2 separate regions of the Homo sapiens genome follow, and region 1 is linked to region 2. Evidence: fine-mapped expression QTL. A gene starts in region 2. The other region holds a variant in brackets. All regions are shown on one strand. Distances are from middle to middle. Region 1 holds the start of GRIN1 (glutamate ionotropic receptor NMDA type subunit 1). Region 2 holds the start of MAN1B1 (mannosidase alpha class 1B member 1).

Region 1 (8,311 bases), 57 kb before region 2:
TGCATGTGTGTCTGTGCTGGCTGGCGCAAGTAAGGGTGAGCATGCACATGAGGAGCGCACCTGAGCGTGTGTCCAGGTGTGTGTGTGAGGAGCGCACCTGTGCGTGTCCAGGTGTGTGTGTGAGGAGCGCACCTGAGTACGTGTCCAGGTGTGTGTGTGGCGCTGGAGCTGCATGGAGGCAAGCCTGAGCCTGTGGCCAGAGGTGTGGAGTGTGATGGGAATGTGTGCATGCACCTGTGAGTGAAAGCAGGCAGTTGGGTGCGCAGGGGTGAGTGTGTGATGGGAGTCCGTGGCCGTGGGTGGACATGCCAGAAGGTGAGGGGCCTGTCGAGCGCTGGGGTGAGGGGCCTGTCGGGTGCTGGGGGGGAGGGGCCTGTCGGGCGCTGGGGGGAGGGGCCTGTCGGGCACTGGGGTGAGGGGCACTGTCTTGGGTGGGGCCCTTGGTGCCCATGCCCCTCCCCCCCAAGACTCAGCAGACCCCCCACGACAGTACTCCCAGGACCCTCTGGTCTGCCCCTGGCTTTACCCCCGACCCATGCCCTCTGGTCCCTCCCGGGGCCTGGGGTGCCTTGGGGGGTGCTAGGTTGGCCCTAAGTCCGATGAAGCCAGCTCTGACACGAAACATGCTCCCAGCCACCCATAGGTCTGGCCCTCCTCAGCCTGGGCCTCCTCCCACTGCTTGATCAGGAGCTGGCCCAGGTGCTGAGCACCCAGGGCTCCGGGGGTCTGTAGCCGAGAACCAGCTCTGCCCCAGACTGCAAATGGGAGTGGTAAGGAAGGGGAAAGGGGTCGCTCGGACCCCCCCAAATCCCAGCTCTGATCTCTCTGCAGCCCCACAGAGTGGACGCCTGGCTGTGTTGGGGGTCAGTGTGTCCTAGAACCAGGTGGCTAATGGGTCTTGGTGAGGAGTGCAGAGGGAGCCCTGTGGTGGGGGCAAGGAGGGGAGTGGAGCCCACAGGGGCGGTCCAGGCTGGGGGGCAGGTGTCTGTGGACAGGGCTTTGCTGAGCCATGAGGTGCAGAGCTTCAGGGGAGGCCACGCGGGGGAGGACAGGGAATGGGCCCAGCCAGGAGGGGACAGGCCTGCAGGGGCGGTATGTGGGGGTCGTGTACAGGGGAGACCTTGCCCAGAGGGAGGCTGCTGGGGACTCAGGACAGGGTGGGCGGGAAGGGTGACGAGTCCCAAGCCCGGCTGGGGCCTCCAGGGAGCGAGGGGCATGGGCAGGAGGAGGGGACGAGGGCGCTCGGCAGCGCGGGGCAGGGGTGTTTGCGGAGCTCCAGGTGGTCTGGCCCTCGCCCCGCAGGGACTGACACGAAGGAGATTTCGACTAATGGCAAAAGCGAGTGAAATGAGCCGAGGACAGGCTGGGGCGGGCGCTCGCCAGACGTGGTGGTGCTGACCATGCACGATGGAAAGAAGAGGGTGTCACACACGGAGCCACAGACACAAGGCGGCCCGTCCTGCACCTCGGCTCCGCCAGGCGCCCACCCGCGGCGCCGACCCTCACCTTGGACTCACGCTCCTCCAGCAGCGTCTCCAGGCGTTTCTGAGCCGCCCGGCCCTCGTGGTCGTCGCTGACCAGCAGGATGATGTGGTTCCAGCTGTAGACACGCATCATCTCAAACCACACGCTGGACTGGTGGGAGTAGGGCGGCACGGTGCGCAGGAAGCTCAGGTGGATGCTCTGCGGGAGGCGGGGGCACGGCGGGCTGAGGTGGACCCGCGGGGACCCGCCCTCCCACCCGCCTCCCACTGCCGGAACACCCGCCGGAGGCTGGGAACCCCCCTCCTCCCACCCCTGTCCCCACCCCCATGGGGACACGTTCTAGACCCTGGGACCCCCTCGTGTCTCCCACCCCGTCCCTACCACCCTGGGGACACTTTCTAGACCCTGGGACCCCCTCGTGTCTCCCACCCCTGTCCCCACCCCGCTGGGGACACTTTCTAGACTCTGGGACCCCCTCGTGTCTCCCATCCCATCCCTGCCACCCTGGGGACACTTTCTAGACCCTGGGACCCCCTCGTGTCTCCCACCCCTGTCCCTACCACCCTGGGGACACTTTCTGGACCCTGGGACCCCCTTCCTCTCACTCCTGTCCCCACCCCTCTGGGGACACTTTCTGGACCCTGGGACCCCCTTCCTCTCACTCCTGTCCCCACCCCTCTGGGGACACTTTCTGGACCCTGGGACCCCCTTCCTCTCACCCCGGTCCCCACACCCCTGGGGACACTTTCTAGACCCTGGGACCCCCTTCCTCTCACCCCGGTCCCCACCCCTCTGGGGACACTTTCTAGACCCTGGGACCCCCTTCCTCTCACCCCGGTCCCCACCCCTCTGGGGACACTTTCTGGACCCTGGGACCCCCTTCCTCTCACTCCTGTCCCCACCCCTCTGGGGACACTTTCTGGACCCTGGGACCCCCTTCCTCTCACTCCTGTCCCCACCCCTCTGGGGACACTTTCTGGACCCTGGGACCCCCTTCCTCTCACCCCGGTCCCCACACCCCTGGGGACACTTTCTAGACTCTGGGACCCCCTCGTGTCTCCCATCCCATCCCTGCCACCCTGGGGACACTTTCTAGACCCTGGGACCCCCTCGTGTCTCCCACCCCTGTCCCTACCACCCTGGGGACACTTTCTGGACCCTGGGACCCCCTTCCTCTCACTCCTGTCCCCACACCCCTGGGGACACTTTCTAGACCCTGGGACCCCCTCCTGTCTCCCACCCCTGTCCCCACCACCCTGGGGACACTTTTTTTTTTTTTTAAACAGTCTCGCACTGTTACCCAGGCTGGAGTGCAATCTCGGCTCACTGCAGGCTCCGCCTCCTGGGTTCACACCATTCTCCTGCCTCAGCCTCCCAAGTAGCTGAGACTACAGGCGCCCGCCACCACGCCCGGCTAATTTTTTTGTATTTTTAGTGGAGATGGGGTTTCACCGTATTAGCCAGGATGGTCTCGATCTCCTGACCTCGTGATCCGCCCGCCTCGGCCTCCCAAAGTGCTGGGATTACAGGCGTGAGCCACCGCGCCCGGCCAACCTGGGGACACTTTCTAGACACTGGGACCCCTCCTTTTTCCCACCCCTGTCCCCACCATCCTGGGGACACTTTTTAGACCCTGGGAACCTCTCTCCCACCCCGGCCTCTCCTCCCACATATAATCTCGGAAATGGAGGAGGTTTAGTGTTGGCCCCATAGCACCCTAAGGGACGTGGGTTTCTGTGGAATTGTGCCTGGGGTGAGCTCACCTCTTCCCCTGCAGCCCACCACCTTTGGACAAGCTGAGCTCAGGAAATTCTTGATGACACATAGCGCCTCGAAGATCCCCCTGGGGCTGCCCATAGAGTCCTCCCAAATTTAAACAACTCTATGTATGAAGAAGAATTCACTCTTGGGGCTAAAGGCCTCATCTCCCCAGGCGAGAGCGTGGTGCTTGCTTGCCCTGGCTTGCTTTTCCTGGCTTCAAGCTGCCACGGAGTGCCGTGGCATGGCCGGGAGTGGAGCAGGCTCTGCCCCCCTCTGCCTCAGTTCTCTGTGTCTGTC[C/G]AGGTAAGCCCTGGTTCCTTCAGTGTCCCTGTGGACTCTTGCTGATCTTGTGGTCCTCTGAGGCTTCCAGGTTATTTTTCACCTGCTCCCTCTTTGTGGCCTGGGGCAGTGCCTTGGGGTGCAAAAATGTCCCCTGCTTCTGTCTATCCACCTGGTGACGTGGTGGCAAGGCAGGCTGTGCTTGAGGTCTTGGACTAGCTCTGACCTGGCCTTGCCGGTTCATGTTTTGGGCACAGGTTGGTTGTAGTGTAGAGACTGTGGTAAGGCCAGGGTGCAGCTGTGAGCTGTGCCCCCTCCCTTTGGCCTGCTCTGGGCCAGGGGCATCCGTTTCCCCCGCCTTTCATTTGACCACTGGCTGCTTTCCTGGGTAAGGCCATCTTCTCTCCTTCACATGTGAGGAAACTGGTGCCCAGAGAGGCGAAGGAGGTCGTGCCTGAGGGCACAGGAATGAGACCCCCACCTTCCCATGGCCAGAGGTGAAGTCACCTGGGAGGAGCAGTTTGGGTGCCGAGGGGGCACGCCAGGGCTTTCAGAGCCTCAGGAAGGTGGCTGTTCCAGCCTCTGTCTCAGTTCCTGCCTCTGGGGCCTTCCATCCTCCCAGAAGAGCCTGGGCCTGGCTGGGGCGACCCCTGTGCTTTAAGGCAGTGTTACCAAGGACTGTGGACTCTGGGCAGGAGGAATTTGGAGAAGGTGGGGGACCCAGAAGCCTGGCTGCACAGCCCAGCCCTCTGGCTCCTCAGCGCTGGCACCAAACTGGATGTCCCCTGCCAAGTGGCCCTGCAGGTCTGTCTGCCAGTGGCCCCAGGTTGGTCAGCCTCTCAGTGCCCAGTTTGCATCCTGGGTAGACGGAGGGCTGTGTGACCTAGAGCAAGCCCCCATGGCTCTCTGGCTTGGAGATTCCTGCAAAACTGACTGGATGACCCTCCTCTCTTCCAGCTGATGTTCCAGGATTGGACAGAAGCCCTCCTCATAGCCTGTGGGCCAGGAGGGTCTGCAGGAGGCTAAGCCAAGGTGCCCTCAGCCCTAGAGGCTGGAAGCCCCCAGGCCAGCGCCCCCGACCCTGAGCTGCAACCACAGACATTGCTCTCCACCCATGCCTGCAGTGGGAAAGGCTGGCCCCACCACCCTGGCTGCGTGCACACCCCTTTCCTCCTGGAGCAACCCCCAGCTCTCCAAACTCCCCTTCAAAGTCCACCTGTCTAGAAAGCCTCCCAGCCATCCCTTCTCCTAGCCCACGGGCCCTCTCGTCCTGAGGGGGTGTCACTGGTGCCTGTGCCAGTGAGTGTGTGTGACTTTGTGCGAATCCATGGGTGTGTCAGTGTTCATGTGTGGGGAGGGTGAGCATAGCAGTGTAGCGTGTGGGTGCTGTATGAATGTGTGAGTGTGTGATGTGTGTGTGATGTGTGAGTGTGTGATGTGTGCCCCCTCCCTTTGGCCTGCTCTGGGCTGGGGGCACGTGCTGGGCTCCACGTGAGCCCTCTATGTGCAAGAGAGTGTGTATTGTGTGTGTAAGAGCACATGAGTGTGCATGTGAGCATGTTTGCAGATGTGTGAGTTGGACACGTGAGAGCGTGTGGACGTGCATGAATGTGGGGGAGCTGTGTGGCTGTTTGTGGTGTGTGAGTTCCATGTGAGCGGGTCGGCCCGCTGCTCCTGGAGTGGCCAGGCTGTGCCCTGGGGCCGAGGGCCGGAAGGCCTGGTCTGGCAGTCAGGCTTACCTTGTCCGAGTAGATGGACATGCGGGTGGTCAGCCCCAGCACGGGTATGCGGTAGAAGCCGGCTGTGTAGGAGACAGGGGTGGGAGTGAAGTGGTCGTTGGGGGTAGGTGGATGGCTAACTAGGATGGCGTAGACCTGTGGACACAGGAGACATGATCAGCTTGAGTCAGGGGTGAGCCAGGCACTGGGTTAGAGGCTGAGATCTGGAAGCAGCAGGGGCTGAACCCAGCAGGCTAAGGGGGGCTGGGGGCATGATTCGGGTACATGCTACATGCCCAGGCCCAGATGCACACATGCCCACAGGGCAGGGGAGGGAGACCCCACCCGGACCTCCCCTCACTCCTCTCACACTGCTGACTAGGGCCCTGCAGGTGTTGTGCTCAAGGGCCAGGTGAAGGACTGCCCTTGGGATGTCCTGGGGGCCTGGAGCACGGGACGCACCCAAGGTGGACCGGGGAGGATGGCTGGTCCTGCATCATGATGGCCTTGATTCTCAGAACCCACCCGTCCTTCCTGATGGGCCAGGGGTGGGGCCAGCCCACATCCCGAGACAGGGCGGGCAGCTCTGAAGGGTGGTACCGGACTTCAGGGGGAAGCAGCTAGGAGCTGCCAAAGAGGCCGAGATCCCTTTTGCTGGTGTCTCCAGGGGCAGGGCCTGTGACGGGCTCTGTCTGAACAACACCAAGCCCTTACTTTGAGTGCTGGCCTCATCCTCAAGGAAGGGAAGGGAGGCATTGGGGGTGCAGCCCAGCCTTCCTGCCCATGACCAAGGCCCCATGGGGCAGATCTAAAGCCAGCGGCTCAGCCCCCTGGAGCTGATGCCTCCCTCTCTCCCCAGCCTCCCAAGGCAGGGAGGCAGGCAGCTGGTGGTCCACACCACCTTCACACAGCAAGGACCTGCGTCTGTCCCCAAGTCTGCCTGTGCCTCTTAGAGCTTTGGCGAATGGGGGCGTGCACTGCATGGCCCCACGTGGCAGGACAGTACCTGGCCGGGGGTGTGTTCCGTGAGTGGTAGCTGCAGGCATTGCCTTTGCTGCAGAGGCCATGCCCACAGACAGACAGCAACATGGGCGTGAGTTGAAGCAATTCCCCAGGAATGGCCCCTCCTGGATTTCCTGAGTCCACCTTCCGTGTCCCTCCCCAGTCCCAGATGGAATATGTGACTGCAGCCACTGGCTACAGATGCATCCCCCCAGTCCCATCCCATGGTGTCCTGGGCTGGGGCACGGGGGTGGCTTGTGAAGTGGGGAGGGAGGATTTCTGAGAAAACTCTGGTGTGGGCCCTGCAGCTGCAGCTGTTTGAAGTGGTTCTCCCTCCCCCAGCTCTTGCTTCCAGCCTGCACCCAGAGGTGCTTGGCAAAGACCCGTAGGTCCGTGTGTGACCATGCAGGTGTTCACGCGTGTGCTAGGGTATGGTTATGTGCATCACATGCCCTGGCATGTCTGTTCGTGTACATGCGTGTGAATGACTGGAACCATGTGTGTAAATGTGCATGTTTGCACGTGCCTCTGGGAATGCATGCCAAGCCGTGTGTGGCACATGAGCAGGTGTCAATGGATCTGCATGTGTGCAGATGAGCATATGAAATTGATTGTGTGATGCTGAGGTGCATGAGTGTGTGCTAATGTAACATTTGGTGTGAGTGTGAGCATGTGTGTCCACAGATGTGGTGTGTCCATCAGGTAGGCACGTGTGAGCGGTGCTAGGCTGGATGTCTGTCTTGCCTCTTACATAAAGGGCTGCATTGCAGATCCTTGCAGCCTCATTGGAATTCAGCAGGCGCTCGGCCCAGGGGCGGACAGCTCCGACAGGCAAAATCCCAGGAGCCACGTCCTCCCCCGCAGCGCTGGCTGCCGACAGCTCCCATGCCCTGATGCCTCTCGCGTGTGCACCCCCACTCCCACCCCCACAAAGCGTCCTGCCGTGGCACCTGAGCCATTTCTCTTCCCAGGCGGACCCATCGGTAGGGGGAAGGGACGAAAGAAAGGGCAGGAGAACCTGGAAGCAGAAACAAAGATGGCCCCAGGCCCCGTCCTGTTTAAAGCTCTGCAGGGCGGGCATGTAGCTGGACAGGCGCTTCTACTCTCTTACCCGGAATGCCCACCCCCACACTGACACACTCCAGCCCCACGTCTACACACACCAGTCAGGGCCTGGAGCCCCAGGGGCCCTCTGAGGACCAGCCAAGGTGGCAGGTGACTGGTCTCAGGCCAAGATAGGGGAGCCAGCAGACCCTGGTGTTTGGTTCCTAGTGAGACGAGGCCTCCCGGAAGCAGCCAGCTGACTCTGGGGTGGTGTCTTACAGGGAGGAAGGGGGCACGGAAAGGATGGAATGAAACTGGGGGTGTGGGGTTGCAGGATGGAGGAGAGGGGAGGTGGGTGGCGGAGGTGGGGGAGGGCACCTGGCTGGAGATGAGGTCCTCGCACACCGACAGAGCCATCTGGATGGCGTTGGGCTTGTGCGTGACGGAGGTGGCATTGAGCTGAATCTTCCAGGAGCCGTGCCGCTTGTTGGCCTGGTTCACGGCCTCGCGGAACATCTGCTCGTGCTTCCGCGTGCTCAGCACCGCGCCAATGTTGACGATCTTGGGGTCGCACGCGGCACGGGCGACGGAGCAGGAGAACAGCAGGGCGAGCGTCAGCAGGCGCATGGTGCTCATGGGCTCGGGCCGCGGGCCTGGCTCTGCGCGGCGCGAACGCGGGGCCCTCGGCGCATCCCCCGCGGGGCTTCCGGGCCGTCCTGCGCTCGCCCGGCCCCGCGGGCTGCGGACGCCACGTCTCCCCCGGAGCGGCGGTCCCGGGACGTCGGCCGAGGGAAGGGGCGCTGAAGCGTGCGCGGGGGCTCGGGGCTCAGCCCCACGCGGCCGGCGCTGTCCGCGGTGCTGAAGCGGGGCCGGGCACAGCTCCGAGCGCCCGGCTTGGAAAGGGCCCGGCGGCGGCGGCGGCGGCTCCGCGGACGGCGCTGGTTCCGGTCCGGACGCTGCGGCGACTGCAGCAGCTGCAGAAACGCGAGCGGGGCCAACGTCTCCTGCCCCTCCCGCCGCCCCCG
Region 2 (8,318 bases):
TCCCCAGCCCAGGAGCTGTTCCTCGGCAGGTTACCACTCCCAAGGCCACTGTTAGAAAGCGCTGTCTGTCCCTGTCACAGCCCTGCAGGGAAGTCCACCTGGCGCTGAGGACTCTGGCCACAGGTGAAGCTCCCAAGGCACTCCCACACCTGCTAGACACAATCACAGATGTACCAACAACAGTAACTAACACCCTAAGGGCCTTCTAAGGGTTCCGAGCAGCCACACCAGAGTCAGCACCACCCTGGTGTTCTCAACGGTGTCGGGGATTTGGCTGTTCTTCCTGAACCAAACCTTCACTGACAGGACGTTTTCCTGGTTCTCCAGCTGCCTCCTGACCCATCCCCAGTCTCCACTCCCCCTGCCCTCCTCCCTGACCCCAATCTTCTCAGCCTGGTGGTGCCCAGGACTAGGCCTGGCCCCTTCTTCCAACGTTTCCAGAGGACACAAACCACCTATACCTAGGGACTCCTAAAACCTGTCTCCCCTGGCAGACTCTGATCCTGGCACCACCTGCCCACCAAGGTCTCCATGGCGCCTCCCAGACATCTCACAGTGGGCAGATCCAAAACGGAGCTCCTCAGTGTCCCCAAGCCAGAGCCTGCACAGCCTTTGCTGGCCCCTCCACCCGGGGACTCACCCTCCTTCTCCCAAGGCCCACTCCTGCGGAGCACTCCTCCCCCCACTCAGCTTTTCCCACGGCCAGGCAGCTCTCCTGGCCTCCTGCCCTCCACTGTGTCTCCACCCAGCCAGAGCAGTTTCACAGTAAACATCTCAGACCTCCAGTCCACGCCAAAATCTTCCCGCATACATCAACTGGACCCTCCATGCTGCCTCCAGGACCTGCAGGACCACAGCTGGACTGAGCCAACCCCTGCTCCCTCTCCCAGCCCTGGGAATTTCACCTTCCCGCATATGCCAAGGTCCTCCTTGCCTCAGGCAGTTTCACTCAGGCTCAAGTCTGCCTCTCCCCACCTTGCCCGGTGCCAGCAGCTTCTCAGCCCTCAGATCTTGCCCTCAGTGCCACGGCCTCCCCTGAACCCTCAGGACCAGCCACTGTTCTTCACCAGCGCCCTGCTCTTTTCCACATAGGATGTACACCATGTGCCATCTGCCTCTGCCCATCTGTGCCTGGCTTCTCACCAGCCTCTCCTACCAGCTGTGGCCTCTTGAGAGGAAACAGGTCTGTCTTATTCAACACTGCACAGTCAGAAGTAAAACCGGAACTGGCCATGGCTGGTCTTCAAAAAGAATGAAGCAAAGACTACGCCTCTCTTTCCCCAAGTATTATCCGACCAGTCCAAAACGAGAGAGAGGTAAACACGTGGTAATAAATGGTAAAGGAAAATAATTCTTCTCAATCTTCAGTGGTTTGAAATGCCTCTGGATTGAACCCCAGTTATAACCCCACACCATTTGCTCAAAGTACCTGTGACGAAATCTCAGGTAAGTTCTCAGGGTCGGTGTCCGCCTTCTGAGGAGCTGGTAAGACGGGTGGATTTGCTGGTTTTAACCCAGCAATTTCTGGCCTCATCTTCTGCTCTTCCTCTAGCCTGAAAGCCAGAGCTGAATAACAGAAGCTATTTTATTTCAAATATGCCACAAGGCCTACAAGAGATTTAAACTGCTTTATAAAAACACTTGGCAGGCACTATCCATTACAAATCAACATTATGATACCTGATAGTCACTGAAATGAATTCAACAATGTCCCAAGGGAATGAAATCTTTTTCAAAACACTTGGCAGTTTGTGTCCTTGTCCATAACACAGAACCCCACATCTTTTGCCTTCCTATTTTCCATTCAGGGACGTTCAGCATGTGGCAGGTGGGCAGGAGCCCTTTAGCTTTGCTCCAAAGAGAAGCATCTTAGACCAAGTGAGAAGAGATTCTCCACATCCTCACCAGAACTCTGCCTGGTCTTTTCCAAACACACGCTAATGAGTGCTACGAAATTTGTGTGGTTATTTAGGCTGAGTGTTCAAGCCCACCAGCTGACTTACTCTATAAGGGAGGCTGGACATATCAGTACTTACACCAGAGACCTAGAAAGTAGTCAGACAGCATCAAATTAACATCTGTGTTCTAGCCAGGTGGTTACATACAGCTCTACCTTTCTCTTTATCTTGATTTCTTGCCAATTCGTTGCCATATATGCCTCCTGGAGCTGTTTAAGGTAGAATGCAAGATTGCTTCTGCCCAATCAACCCTCAACACAGATATCGTTTTCAAGTACACGTGTTTCTGATACCTTTCCAATGGTCAGCCAAGTTGATGTAGAAGAGGAGTCCACAGAAAAGCAGAAAGGCAAGGAGGAAGAGAATCATATTCCGCTGCAATCTCGACAGTTGCTTCCATTTCTAAGGGAGGTACAGAGAATGACATTTCTTACTGAATATATCACACGGAACGTCTCAACTGTCACAAACTGTGAGGACAATAAGGAATTCTTCTGGAAGATCCAGTGTTCAGCTCTATTTCTTTTTTTTTTTGGAAACAGGGTCTCATTCTGTTACACCTAGGCTGGAGTGTAGTGGGTGGAACGCGGGATGAGCCACCGTGCCCGGCCAGCTCTATTTATTTTGAATGGGGAGAAGTTCCCTCTCAGCAGGGAGTAGGAACATTGCTGGGACAATACTACAGATGTCGTTAATACAGTGGTGCAGATGAGACGAGGATAAGAAAAAAGCAGAAACATTTCTGTCACATTTCATCAACAGTGGAGAAAGACTCCTGCGACTCCCACAGATGTAGCCCAGGCACCGCCCAGGCGATGCACAGTCCGCATGTGGTTATCAATGCCCTTCGGCCTGAGACCACCACGAACAGACCAGGAGCCAATCAAGAGGGGCTCATTTCTCACTGTACCGAGGGGAGCATACACCACGGGGAACCTCCGGTTTCCGCTCCAAGAGGGGCAGGCGCCTGGGCCAGGACCTTGCAGAAAAGCGAACGAAGCCCAGAAAACCTGCTGGGGCTCTGAGCCCTCTTCCCACCACCGCCCCGCAGAATTTGGGCCGCTGAGACCGCTGCAGGCGAGCCGCCCACGGCTGCCCCAACCAGGAACGCACATTTGCCCCTTTTTGCGGGGAAGGGGTGGAGAGGGCGGCGCCTGGGGAGTCGAGTCCGCCCGCCCAGGTCCCGCTCGGAGCCGCAGTCTGGGAGGGCGGCGGGCACGGCAGCCCCGGGCCCCAGTCAGCCCGGCGCGACCCTCACCCTCCAGCACGAGCGCCGCCGCCAACTCTTGCTGTTGTCATAGTTCTCGCCAAAGCTCAGCGTCACCGAGATGAAGTCCCGATGAGGCGGCGGCGGCGGCGGTGGGTACATGACTACAGTGGTGGCGACGGCCCAAGGGGCCCCGCCCACTGGCGGCGTCAGGAAGTCCGACTGAGAGGAACCGAGAGCTCCGCTTCTCCTGCCCTCGCAGGCAGCCATCGCAGCGCCGTCAACAGCCCGCCCATCACACGGATACGCGACTGCGCGTGCGCTGCGTCTCTATGCGGCCAGTGCGCCCGCGCCTGTCTCCGCTGCGCTCCAGCGTACGGGGCTGCGTCCTACGGCGACTGCGTCAGACAACTGCTGCGACTCCGCCCTGCCCTCAGGTTCATTGCGCATGCGTCCGGCAGCGCCTGCCCAGGTGTGCTACGAGCGTAGCTGTAGCAACGGGGCGGGCCTTGGTTCGCCTGGGGCGTGGTCGCTGTCTGGGGCTCCCACGTGGTTCGCCTCATGGGCCTGGAGCTGGGCTTCTCTCGCCTCCTGTCGTCTGGCTGCACCGACTTTGCCCACGCCCTCACGGGAGACGCAGACACTAGGGACCCGGGGAGGCGCCCGGGCGGGGCCGCCATGTTGGCAGAGAGTCCCAGCGTCCCGCGCCTCGGTTCCGGAACCCGCGGCGCGGGGATGGAGCTGGGCTGCCCTTGGGCGCCGTCCTGGGCTGGTGCCCACCCTGGCCGCGTGGTCACCGGCAAGAAGCCCAGGGCCTCACCCAGGCGTGGGGGCCGGGGGAAGGACCGGACCCTCCCGAAGTCGCGGACCAGGCCGGGCGGCACCCGGGCTGGGGTGGCTGCTACCCCGAGCTAAGCTGGCTGCGCCGCATCTCACGGTCCCCGGGGCCCGAGCGCTGCGCCTGGACCGGCGCCGAGCGAGGCGGCCAATCGGCCGGCTGGACCCACAGTCCCCGCGCCATAGGCGGGTCGGGGCTTTCAGACCCGGCTCCCAGCCCTCGAACTCGGTAACCTTGGAGGTCAGCTTGAGATGACTGCGCTTCCTGCACGCGTTGTCCTCCCCAGAAACGCCCAAAATGGCAAAGCGGCGTCCGTGGCCGCCCGAGGCCCTCCCTGCCTGGGTTCTCCCCAGCCGAACCTCACGCCCGGCCCCTCCTTCATTCTCTCCTGGCCAGGCTGCTCCTGCCCTTGGGCGAATCCGCTGCGTCCCACGGTCCTGACTGTGGCATTTCTGCGTGTCTGGAGAGCTCCCCCGGCAGCGACGTCCTGCTTAGCACGTGGCTCGTCTAACTCTGTTCCCCTGGCCTCCTGCTCTTCTAGGGGTCATCTTTAGGTTTCTGCTGGTCTCTGCCCCCTGTGACACTTGCTGGTACCCAAATGAAGTCGTTTATGTCACACTCTAACAAGAGGCCCTGAAGAAGCCCTCACAAAAACATTAGCAACGGAGCGCCTGCGGCAAACCCTTCTAACCTTTGGTCTTTATGGTTTCAAAGCAGTTTATGGGAACTTCTCTTTTTTAAAAGATTCCCCTTGGGGCCAGGCGCGGTGGCTTCTGTAATCCCAGGACTTTGGGAGGCCGAGGCAGGTGGATCACTTGAGGTCAGGAGTTCAAGACTAGCCTGGCCAACATGGTGAGACACCCGTCTCTACAAAAAACACAAAAAAATTAGCAGGGCATGGTTGGTGGCAGGCACCTGTAGTCCCAGCTACACGGGAGGCTTAGGCAGGAGAATTCCTTGAACCCAGGAGGTGGAGGTTGCAGTGAGCCGAGATGGCACCACTGCACTCCAGCCTGGGCAACAGAGCAAGACTCTGTCTCAAAAAAAAAAAAAAAAAAAAAAAAGAAATTTCCCGTGGGCGGGGCACAGTGACTCATGCCTGTAGTAATCCCAGCACTTTTGGAGGCCAAGGTGGGCAGATCCCCTGAGCTCAGGAGTCCAACCTGGGCAACATGGTGAAACCCCTGTCTCTACAAAAAATAAAAAAATGAGTCCAGTGTGGTGGTGTGCACCTGTGGTCCCAGCTACTCTGGAGGCTGAGGTGGGAAGACCACCTAAGCCCCAGGAGGTCGAGGCTGCAGTGAGCCATGATTGCACCACTGCACTCCAGCCTGGGCAACAGAGTGAGATCCAGTCTCAAAAAAAAAAAATTCCCCCTTTCCTCAATCCCCACCCCACCCCCCCACCACATGCCTGTGACCCACTGAGGCTTGCATACTCTGCATTGCAATTATGTGTTATTCTTGATTAAATTCATTTATTCTGGAGAGCCTGAGTTTCTCTTTAGGTTGACACCACTCACTCTTGTCAGTCCCTGGAGTACCCCAAGCATCCTCACGTGGTTAGCAGGGAAACCTTGGCATCTCAAGGATGCAGGTGCAGGAGAGCGAGTCTCCAGGCTGTCAGAGCTGAGCATGCAGAAGCCTGCCCTGGAGAGCGCCCCGAGGTTCCTGACCGCAGGTTGTCTCAGGCCCTCCTGAGACCCTGGTGAAGAGTGGGATGGGACCGCGGGGGGATTCCTTGGCACCCCAAGTAGTCTTGGCCTTCATGTGTGAACTCCTGTCCCTAAGGGGGCCCCCAGTGAGCTCCAGCCCTGGGACACAGCTGTGAACACCTGATCCTTGTTCCCAACACCCGTGCACTGCCCAAAAACTGCACTTGCCAGAGTAGCAGTCAATTACGGCACCTTGTGTTTATTGGAAATATTCCACCTACAGAACATTAAGATGCCAGCAACCGGCCCGGCGCGGTGGCTCACACCTATAATCCCAGCACTTTGGGAGGCCGAGGTGGGTGGATCACGAGGTCAGGAGATCGAGACCATCCTGGCTAACACGGTCAAACCCCATCTCTACTAAAAATACAAAGAATTAGCCAGGCGTGGTAGTGGGTGCCTGTAGTCCCAGCTACTAGGGAGGCTGAGGCTGGCCTGGAGGTTGCAGTGAGCCAAGGTCACGCCACTTCACTCCAGCCTGGGCAACAAGAGTGAAACTCCGTCTAAAACAAACAAAAAAAAAGACTTCACCCAACTAACTGTGCTTGTGTAGAAAGAGGTTGCATCCCTGTTCCAGTCATGGCCATGAGGAACAGCTATGAGAAGGGCCCTAAGGCACAGCATGGTTTGCAGTAAGAAGGGCAGAGCCAGGGAGAGAGAAGTAAACATCATCTTCTGGGCTTTGGTTTCAAAAATCACAAGGTGTGGGCCTGAGCCTGCTGCCTGCCCAGGTCTGGGCGCCTCCACTCAGCCACTGTCCTCCCAGTGCCTCTAAATCTGGAAGGCTGCATCTGAACCTGCCCTTCCAGACAACACCCCTCCCCTGGGAAACCAATGGGGATGAGTAGTGGCCCTCCACTGGGGACTGTGGGTTTCGAGGTGGGGGCAGAGGATGAGTTGGCAGCAGTGGCATATCATAGCTCTCTTCATGTCAGCAGGGAGAGGGAGGTGCCACTGCCTCCCCTGAGATGAGAAAGCAGGCGAGAATCACCAGGGGAAGAACCCTGGGGCAGCTGGCTTGTCCCAGCCATGCCTGAGTGCACCAAATATGGAGGCTGCGTCCTCACTCGGAGAGCCAGGCAGCCTGAGCACCAAGATCCGTCAGAAGCAGCAGGCAGCTGGGGTGAGGGGTGGTGCCTCTGACTCATGAAATCCCGGATTAGTCAGCAACCATCACAGAGGCCGCCGGCATTGATCCCACTGGTTCTTGGGGAAGCACAGAAAACTCAGCAGCCTAAACCGACCATGGAAGAGGCTGAGAGGCAGAGGCCTTGGGGATAGATGGGGAGAAGGCAGGAGTACCGGCCGCAGGCTCAGGTGTCCAGGCCAAGCTTCTCAGAGCCACCTGGATCATGGACATCAGGCTCTTTCTGTGGCCTTGCTGGGCATCCAGGGTGTGTGGGCTGGGATGCCCCAGCCTTGCCCCCATTACTGGTTCGTCTGCTAAGGAAGAGGGGGCAGCCCTCGAGTGGGTGGAATTGTCCCCCTCATTCTGGTTCTGCATCTGTAGGCTGCAGAAGCACATCCTGTGTAGCTTATGCAGCTTCTAGTGCTCGGTGGGGTGTGGTGGATCCACAAGGCGGGCTCCCAAAGGGACATGCCCTCCTGTTCTCCCCAGATGACACCACACCTCCCTTGGGCCCCAACCCGAAGCCTCCTCTCAGCCCCATTCTCCCAGGTCCCAAGTCCCTCTGCCTCTTGACTAGACCCCACAGCCAGGAATGGAGCCACAGAGCCCCCAGCAGGCTGTCGCCACTTGTGTCCAGAGGCGACAGGAGAGGCCCTGCCCTCGTGGAGTCTACCAGCATGTTTCATTCTGTGTTCTGCAGGCTGGAAGCATGGGGCAGGCTGCTTTCCCACCCAGAGCTCAGGCTGGGCTGTAGCCCCCAGCTCCAGGACGCCGGGGCTGGCAGGTCTGGGGGGAGTCGGGACTTCCAGGATGCCGGGGCTGGCAGGTCTCGGGGGAGTCTGGGGACAGTCTGGGCGGGTCAGGACTCCTGCAGCTGCGGCTCCCTGGCCTGGTCTTCATCCAGGATGAGCGGGGACTGGAACTCCCGGCCTTGCAGGTACACTTCTAAACCCTGGAGACGAGCAGGGGACAATGGCCAAGTACCCACCTTTTGGCGGGTCACAGCCCCTCTGGCCACACCAAGAGCCACAGTCCCCAGGTGCGATCCCAGGTCTGCCTGGAGTCAGGGAGGGGTGGGGACAGAAAGGCTTCCAGGGCCAGGAGCAGACACACACTGCAAGGCCACCCAAGACCACACTCAAGACCCTAGGCCAGCAGGGGACCCTCCTGTCACGCACAGGTCTGACCTGACCAGAGAAAGGGGCAAGGGCAGCCGAGGTCAGGGAGGTAGCAGAGGCCGGTGTCCTCCCTCCGCAAGGCCCCCACCAAGGCCTGACTGGCCCCACACTGGGCTCAGACCTGGGCTGTCTCATCCCCATGCCCTCCCAGGACCTGCAAAGGCCTCTGGATGCCTCACCCCACCCCAACCCATATCTTGGAAAGTCTTCTGCAAATTTAAACCACCGACCCCATTGGTTAACCGAGGTAGAGCTGTGCCGTCTCCACCCGAGCAGCCACCTCTCCCCAGATGG

What was found.
Region 1: its variant is fine-mapped to the expression of MAN1B1 in whole blood (Lepik 2017, PIP 0.95).

What each region holds. Positions count from the first base shown.
Region 1 is chr9:137,139,098-137,147,408 of GRCh38, reverse strand. It overlaps GRIN1 (glutamate ionotropic receptor NMDA type subunit 1), which reads right to left and starts at 8,255. Exons shown (of 20, transcript NM_007327.4): 1 at 7,665-8,255; 2 at 5,262-5,396; 3 at 1,507-1,683. The coding sequence starts at 7,922. The variant C/G (reference allele first, on the strand shown) is at 3,544.
Region 2 is chr9:137,082,117-137,090,434 of GRCh38, reverse strand. It overlaps MAN1B1 (mannosidase alpha class 1B member 1), which reads right to left and starts at 3,450. Exons shown (of 13, transcript NM_016219.5): 1 at 3,217-3,450; 2 at 2,252-2,360; 3 at 1,430-1,566. The coding sequence starts at 3,435. It overlaps UAP1L1 (UDP-N-acetylglucosamine pyrophosphorylase 1 like 1), which reads right to left. Exons shown (of 9, transcript NM_207309.3): 9 at 5,897-7,798. The coding sequence ends at 7,706. It overlaps MAN1B1-DT (MAN1B1 divergent transcript), which reads left to right and starts at 3,618. Exons shown (of 1, transcript NR_027447.1): 1 at 3,618-5,489. RefSeq lists silencers at 3,087-3,316, 3,867-4,096, 6,682-6,916 and enhancers at 3,297-3,526, 6,694-7,023.